Homo sapiens: one gene and its partner. The protein of the gene in region 2 purifies or fractionates together with the protein of the main gene of each other region. This does not show direct contact. Each region holds a gene or a part of one and is shown on either strand. Other genes may lie near its edges. The genes, in order: PIP4K2A and PSME3IP1.

The links.
Region 1: the proteins of PSME3IP1 (region 2) and PIP4K2A purify together in Homo sapiens (co-immunoprecipitation; one large-scale study listed by IntAct). This does not show direct contact.

Annotation. Positions count from the first base shown.
Region 1 is NC_000010.11:22,707,553-22,711,578, reverse strand, and holds part of PIP4K2A (phosphatidylinositol 5-phosphate 4-kinase type-2 alpha), read left to right. Parts: intron 1-4,026. UniProt on the Homo sapiens protein: Catalyzes the phosphorylation of phosphatidylinositol 5-phosphate (PtdIns5P) on the fourth hydroxyl of the myo-inositol ring, to form phosphatidylinositol 4,5-bisphosphate (PtdIns(4,5)P2). Has both ATP- and GTP-dependent kinase activities.
Region 2 is NC_000016.10:57,172,540-57,176,039, forward strand, and holds part of PSME3IP1 (PSME3-interacting protein), read right to left. Parts: exon of another isoform or gene 3,003-3,500; coding exon of another isoform or gene 3,000-3,002; intron 2,482-2,999; exon of another isoform or gene 2,179-2,481; coding exon of another isoform or gene 2,176-2,178; intron 2,150-2,175; exon of another isoform or gene 2,081-2,149; intron 2,067-2,080; exon of another isoform or gene 1,926-2,066; coding exon of another isoform or gene 1,902-1,925; intron 1,752-1,901; exon of another isoform or gene 1,630-1,751; intron 1,447-1,629; exon of another isoform or gene 1,425-1,446; intron 1,331-1,424; coding exon of another isoform or gene 1,316-1,330; coding exon 1,189-1,315; intron 336-1,188; coding exon 237-335; intron 1-236. UniProt on the Homo sapiens protein: Promotes the association of the proteasome activator complex subunit PSME3 with the 20S proteasome and regulates its activity.

The DNA of each region.
Region 1 (4,026 bases), on a different chromosome or scaffold from region 2:
TGGCATCAGTGTTTGCATCTGTGAACTGAGGTTGTTTGGATGATTTCCAAGTCTAACTCAAGATTCTGTTTTTTCAGTCTACTAGGTGCACAGTGTTATACTAGGATTTGTAGAATACTATATAAAAGTTGTCTTACTATTATAACCTTCCAAATGCAGCAACATTCAGGGAATTTTCAAGACCTTGACTACAGGGGAAGGAAATCTATGGTGATTTTAAGAGACTGTGAACTAAGGGTTTGTTATATTGAATGTAGCTGAACTGCATTGCAGTCTATTAAGCCAAAGTCGATTTGATTGAAACATAACAACTTGCAATTAAGGTGAAAATGTTCAAGTCCATTGAGGTGGTAATGAAAATCTTGATTTGGGCAATGGTCATAGTCGGGAGTAAGCCTGCCATTGTGTGGTTAATTTGATATGTTACTGCTTTGTAACTTAAAATACCCATCAGTGAATGGATCAGTGCCAATTTTTAAGTATTTTAAGCAGAGAATATAACTGAATACATAAAGGAAAAGACTTAAGGCAGTTTTGTCTTGTTACATTTAGAATTAAACTAAAAATGATCAAACAGTAAGCGTCTTAAGATGATATTTTAATAGTGTGGGGAGGATGTTGAATGATATGAGCCAAGACTTGTTTTAAATAGATACTCTAAAAGATTTTTATCCACAGTGAAATGTGAGCCTTTTAGAAATTAGTATTTTAAAACCTATTTAAATATCCAAAGGAAAACATTATCTGTATAGAAAAATCTTAAAGCACATAAAACTTGTTTAAAACATGTAGCATTTAGAAGTAGCTAAGTATTGATGTTAGAGGCTTTTGGTTTAAAGCTGTAGAAGTTGAAATGAGCTTTGGCAAAAATGTCAGGTATTGAGGGGTTTGGGGGGCCTATCACAGTAGAAGGAAAGGCTGGTAATGGAACCATGTGAAGAGCTGGGTGCTTGAGTGTGTGGGTGTGTGAGTGCGTGGGACTTTTCTGTACCCTTTGGCTCAGTTCTCCTTCATAGCTGGCTGGTTCCTCCACAGAGCAGGGAATGAACGGTTCCTGTATTTCACATTTTGTCATTTCTGCTCCCCCAAAAGGGTTTCCTGTCTCTAATTCAGTTATAAAAATACCGTGGAAGGATTCCACTTGGGATTGGTCTGGCCTTGGTCATTTGTGGCCGTCCCTTGGACTAAGCAGTTATAAAAACATGGCAGCGCTTGCCTGTTGGCGTTGGGGAAAGAACAGTCCCCAGAGAGGGGAAAGGGCCTGCCAGGCAGTTTCAGGCAGGTCTCTGTCCGAGTAATAGAGCTGGATGGTTCTGGACATCCGTGGGTCTTTACCGTGGGAATCTGTGAGGGCCAGCCTGATGAGCACCATGTGCTGTGTTGTGTGTGGATTGGAGAATTCATGGTGTCCTTGGTGGAGCGTCAGTAGCTTTGATTATATTCTCCACAAGCTCTGGTTTTTGGAATAGACAAAGACCATATTGGATACATCATAATTTTTTTTTTTTTTTTTTTGGTTCATGGGTTTTTATTTGGGCACTGAAAGAAGATAAGGAAACTAAGTTTTAAAGTGATTTGAGTGACTGTGAAATGACTTTGACTGAATAGGACATAATAAGGCAATTACATTAAAATTAAAATTAGACATTAGATGAAATTATTGAGTGGAACCCAGCTACCATTCATTCAAGAACTAGTCTCCTCAAACTATTTTTTTGTTCTTTTTAATCTTCAGAGGAAAGAAACATACCAAGCAGACATACAGAAAGTTTATTAGGGAAGTCGTTTTATACTCCTTAAAACTTGGGATTATAACCAGAGAACAGAATACATTTTCCTCTCCATTTGTCAGATACTTTAGAGTGAACTCTAAGTATTTATACTTAGTACTTAGTGTTACTTAGTACTTACAGTTACTAAACTTCAGTACTCAGAATGATGCCCCATGTCAGGTCAGTGATTTCTATTTCCAGGGTATCCTGATCTGCTGTGTCTTTAGATAGGTTGCCGGCAAGAATTATAATAAACCACCAAAATCTGCCTTAAGTTGATTAGAAAATACAGGCAACCAGAGTAATTAATTCTGCCAGCATAGCCTTCGAAATACAAATTTTGGAATTGAAGGGAATTGGTGCAATTTGGCAAAAAAGGTTTGTGGTTAGACAGATGAGGTTCAAATGCTAACTTTGGAACTGATGGGCTCTTTGAGCAGGTGATTTAGTCACTTGAGCCTCAATTTTCACATTCTTAAAATGGAGATAATGATATGACTTCACAGGGTTGAGAGTTAAATGAGATACTGTGTTTAAGGCCTAGCACTGTAATTAGCACATCATAAGGATTCAGTAAATGATGCCTAAAAGTAATAAAGTTCAAATGCAGTTTGGATGGTGATATATTAAAAGAACCAGATCCCTGTTTCTCAAAATTTAAGGTGTTTATCAATCGGGGACTTTTAAAAAAAAAAAAAAAGTCTGCTAAATTAGGCTCTGCTGCTGGGTAGGTGGCTCATGCATGTAATCCTAGTCATGCATTGGGAGGCTGAGGCAGGAGGATTGCTTGAGGCCAAGATTTTGAGACCAGCCTGGGCAGCATAGCAAGACCCTGTCTCTACAAAAAATGTAAAAACATAGATGGGTATGGTGGCACACACCTGTAGCCTGAACTACTCAGGAGGCTGAGGTGGGAGGATCATCTGAGTCCAGGAGGTCCAGGCTGCAGGGAGCCATGGTTGTACAGTGTACTGTAGCTTGGGTGACAGATGGAGGCTCCCACTAAATGTGAAACAATAAAAATTAAAATGCAGTGTCTAATTCAGCAGATCTGTTGGGAGTGCTGCCTGAGACTGTGCATTTATCATACTCTCGGGTGGTACTGATGCTGCAGGTCCACAGGCTACATAGCAGTAGAAGGAAGAACTTTACCACTAAGGATTCCTCCCCCAGCCCCAACTGTATGTGATGAGCCCTTAGAAGAATGGTGGCCCCATGATAGATTAGAGAATTTGGGAGAAGAAATTGTAGGTTGGAAAGGGACACAAGCAATTTAGATTTAAGAATGTGGAATTGCAGGTGATGGTGGTGGGTGGATCCTGCAGTTACAGTACCATGTAGGATGCTGGAAAGGTGTGATTGGAGCTCGGGAGCCACTAGGGCTGGGATAGACCATTGAGACCTGCCCGTACAGAATCGGTAAGTCAGATCTCCACCGGAGGAGCAGGGACACTGGGGACACTTGGCTTTGAGGGAAGGACAGAGGAAGAAGAAACAGGAGGAGAAAACAGAGGTCGGCACAATTAGATGTTCCCAAGTGCTTGAAAGTCATGGCTGTGCTTGTGGTTGATTGCGGGTGGCTGTGAAAGCTTAAAGACTTAAGGAGTGAATGAGTGGAAGTAGAGGCAATTCCTCTTTTTTGGAAGGTAAGTAGAAGGAAGGTGAAAGATGCCATTTTGTTAGGAATCCCTGGGGAGTTTCCTTGAATCCGTCTCTTCGTTTCCATTCTCACTTCTGTCACTCCTAACCAGATTTGTTTCCCTCTTTCCTAGACTGATATTAAACCCCCCTAGCTTATTTCCCTGTGTCTGCCTTTATCCTCATTTCTTTTCTTTTTTGTACTAGGAACTCCTATGGCAGTCCAGTGAAGGCCATAGACTCCTCAGAATGAGGCTTTTAAAGGAATAAATGAAAATACAGAGGATATGTCCTAGCAAGTTCAAGGATCCTTTTAATTCTATCCATGGACCACTTGGGAGTTCATGGAACCCCATCAAGAACCCTTGCAAGAATAAGATGGGGATAGTGTGGGGTGAGAAAGTGGGGAGAGCACGCAGCAGCCAGGAAGAATTCTTGGGGGGGAACACGCATAGGCTGAATTGATTACCCGCCTGGGTCACAGTGCCTAGTACTTGGGATTCACAACGGTACCGTTAACCACTGAGCTGTGCTGCCTGGGCCAAGCTCAGGAATCATTCATTTCTTTGAGTTCTTTTATTTTCTTAGTCTTAAGAGCTGTTCTTCTTGGATGGAC
Region 2 (3,500 bases):
ATTTTTTCCCATTACTAAATATTACCATAGAATTAAAATGGGTGTTTTGAGCTCTAAACAAAAATATTCAATGTGGTCTAGAAGGCTGAAGGCTGTCTCTTTTCCACCAAATAAGCATCCGGAGACTCGAAAATCAAGACAATTCCACGGCTAGTTAGGAAAAGTGCTGCACAAGGCAAAAGTGCGTCAAAAGTACCCCACAGAGCCCCTTGAACTCTCTGTTTTCTGAAGCTTACTGAATTTGAACTGTTCCTCGTACTCCTGCTGCTTCCTGTCCTTCTGTTCCTGTAGCCTTTCATATAGAGATCGAGGGTCATAAACCTCCTCTGGACATTCTGAAAGGAAAAGGAGAGGGGAGAGAGGTGGACGGGGAGGAGATATACACTTCAGATTGTTTTCATATTATTTTGGAATCACAAAAGGTTTTAAAGACAAAGTCAAGTCTCTGCATGATCTGAGGGTGTGGATAACACAAAAATAGTACAAAGTCCAGTTTCCCTTTGGACCTCAGAGAGGGGCCACCAGTTCTCAAAGCCAACTATCAATGTCAATAGCGCCCATGGCCTGAGACAGTTAACTGATTGAGGGGCCAGCCCAAACCCTCCACAGCAGCAGTGTTCTCAGTTGTTCAGACCATGGATCCACCTGTATAGATGGAGGAGAGGAGCAGAATCTCTTGGAAGGAAGTGTGGTAGGCAGAAAAGAAGCAGGATGTGAGTATGCTGGCTCTGCTCCCAGCTGTGCAGGACCTTACATAGGTGACTTCGCCCCTGAGTCTCAGTTCCTCAACTCTAAAGTATGGACAATTGGCCAGGCATGGTGGCTCACACCTGTAATCCCAGCACTTTGGGAGGCCGAGGCAGGAGGATGGCTTGAGCTCAGGAGTTTGGAACCAGCCTGGCCAACAGATGAAACTCCATCTCTACCAAAAATACAAAAATTAGCCAGGCGTGGTGGCTGGTGCCTGTAATCCCAACTACTCGGAAGGCTAAGGCAGGAGAATCTCCTGAGCCTGGGAGGCAGAGGTTGCAGTGAGCCAAGATCGCGCCACTGCACTCCAGCCTGGGCAACAGAGTGAGACTCCGTCTCAAAAAAATAAATAAATAAAACCAAGTGAGGACAATTAATACCTACTCTGCAGGGTTGCTGTGTGGATTAAAGACCATTATACTGACTGTCACAGTATACCTTCTGGATCTTCAGGTTTTCGAACTTTCTCCCATTCTTCTTGCCTCCTTTTGCGCCGTTCATCTAGTTCTGCCTCAGACACAAACCTCTTTTTGATAATAAGGTTACCATCATCCCCTCCATCCATAATGAAACAACCAATCTACAAAACAAAAACAAAAACAAAAAAAATCATTTCAAGTGAGAACTGCAATTAAAATTCTAAAGAGAAACAAGGAGATTTAGCTCCATCTCACCCAGCAACAAACTAAAAATTATCTTCCAACTTTGAATTGAAAAAATTCTCGGCCGGGTGCGGTGGCTCATGCCTGTAATCCTGGCACTTTGGGAGGCCGAGGCGCATGGATCACGAGGTCAGGAGTTCAAGACCATCCTGACTGACATGGTGAAACCCCGTCTCTACTAAAAATACAAAAATTAGCCAGGCACGGTGGCACGCACCTGTAATCCCAGCTACTCAGGAGGCTGAGGCAGGAGAATCGCTTGAACCTGGGAGGCGGAGGTTGCAGTGAGCCAAGATCACACCGCTGCACCCCAGCTTGAGCGACAGGGCAAGATTCTGTCTCAAAAAAAAAAAAAACTCTCAAATAGTTTAATTTATAGGCCATTGATGAAAGCACATGAATACATTTTTCCTGACATATCAGAGAATTTTTATTAACATCGATGTTATCTACACAGTTGGCAAGAGGACCTGGGATAATTCTTATTACCTGGTGTTCCATAGTAAATCTCATATTGCAGCTATTTCTCTGTCCCTCTAATCTAGAAAAATTGGCCTCCTGAGCATCCCATCCTTTTCCCAGCTCTCATCCTCCTTTATTTCTGTAACATCTGACATTGTTTCTTCTTGAAATTCCTGTTTCTGAGACATTACACTATCTTGATTCACCTGCTCTTGCCTCCAAGTAGATTAAGATGGAGAATCTCAGCTATTGAAGACTTAGTGTTCAAGTCCAGTCTGTATAGCAGGGAAGGTGCACAAACCATGAATGGAGAAAGTGAGACTGGAAGAACAGATCTCCCAACTTCAGTTCCACGTACTTTCCTGAATACTAATCTGACTCTTCATTTATATCTCTTCTGACCTTCCTCCCTGTAAACCCCTTGTCTGTGCCATTTAAGATTTGAACTTCAATCCTTCTCTTTTCTCACTCCCACAATCACCTCAACCATTTTATGCATATTTTGACACAGAAGATTACCGAATCTGTTATTTCTACCTGAGCTTTTCTTCAAAGAGGAGAGAAGGAAATAAAGATAGCAGAGTGTATATTACTTATTACTCCTTTTTTTTTTTTTTTTGAGATGAAGTCTCGTTCTGTCACCCAAGCTGGAGTCCAGTGGTGCAATCTCAGCTCACTGCAACCTCCGCCTCCCAGGTTCAAGCGATTCTCCTGCCTCCGCCTCCTGACTAGCTGGGACTACAGGCGTGTGCCAACACGCCCAGCTAATTTTTGAATTTTTAGTAGAGATGGGGTTTCACTATGTTGGCCAGGCTTGTCTCGAACTCCTGAACTCGTGATCTGCCCGCCTAGGCCTCCCAAAGTGCTGGGATTACAGGGGTGAGCCACCGCACCTGGCCATATTACTCCTTTTAAACTAAACCTCTGTTTTTCTTTATTGGTTTCTTTCCTTTTGAGTAACTGTGGAATTAACCCCTACCCAGACATGTTATTCACAGCACTATGTGCTAACAAGGAGGCACATATTCAATCCAATGTCCATTCCAAGATAACCACTAACAACAAAAACAGTAAGTTTCCACGCTACCACAAAAATAAAGCAGCTAACAGTTAATGAGCTCTTACCATGTATTATATTCCTTTTATGGATATTATCTAATTTACATGATCATTGACCCTATGAGAAATATTATCTGTTTACAGATGAAGTTGAGGTCCAGAGGAGTTAGATTATTTGTCTAAGGTGATACAGGTGGTGAATGGTAGAGCTGAGAACCAAATCCAGGCCTGATATCAAAAATGCATACTCTTACCAACTTTACCATACTCCTCCCCAGAAAACACTAAATCTTAGTTGAAAACAAAGACATGTCGACTTCAGCTTTCTTCCTACTTCAAATTCCAGTGCTGAGAATATTCATGCAACATTTTTATTTAGTAAAGCTAGAAATGGAAGCTGAAAAAACAAACCCAAACGTTCAGAACAAGAGAATAGTCTCAGCCTGAATACTACTGTTGCTGAGGTTTAGTTTAATGTAACAATAAGAGCGAATTGTGAAAATTACTAGAAAGAAATGAAATCAACTGACAGACGCTGTTGCTCCCACCTAAAGCCCACAACCTGGA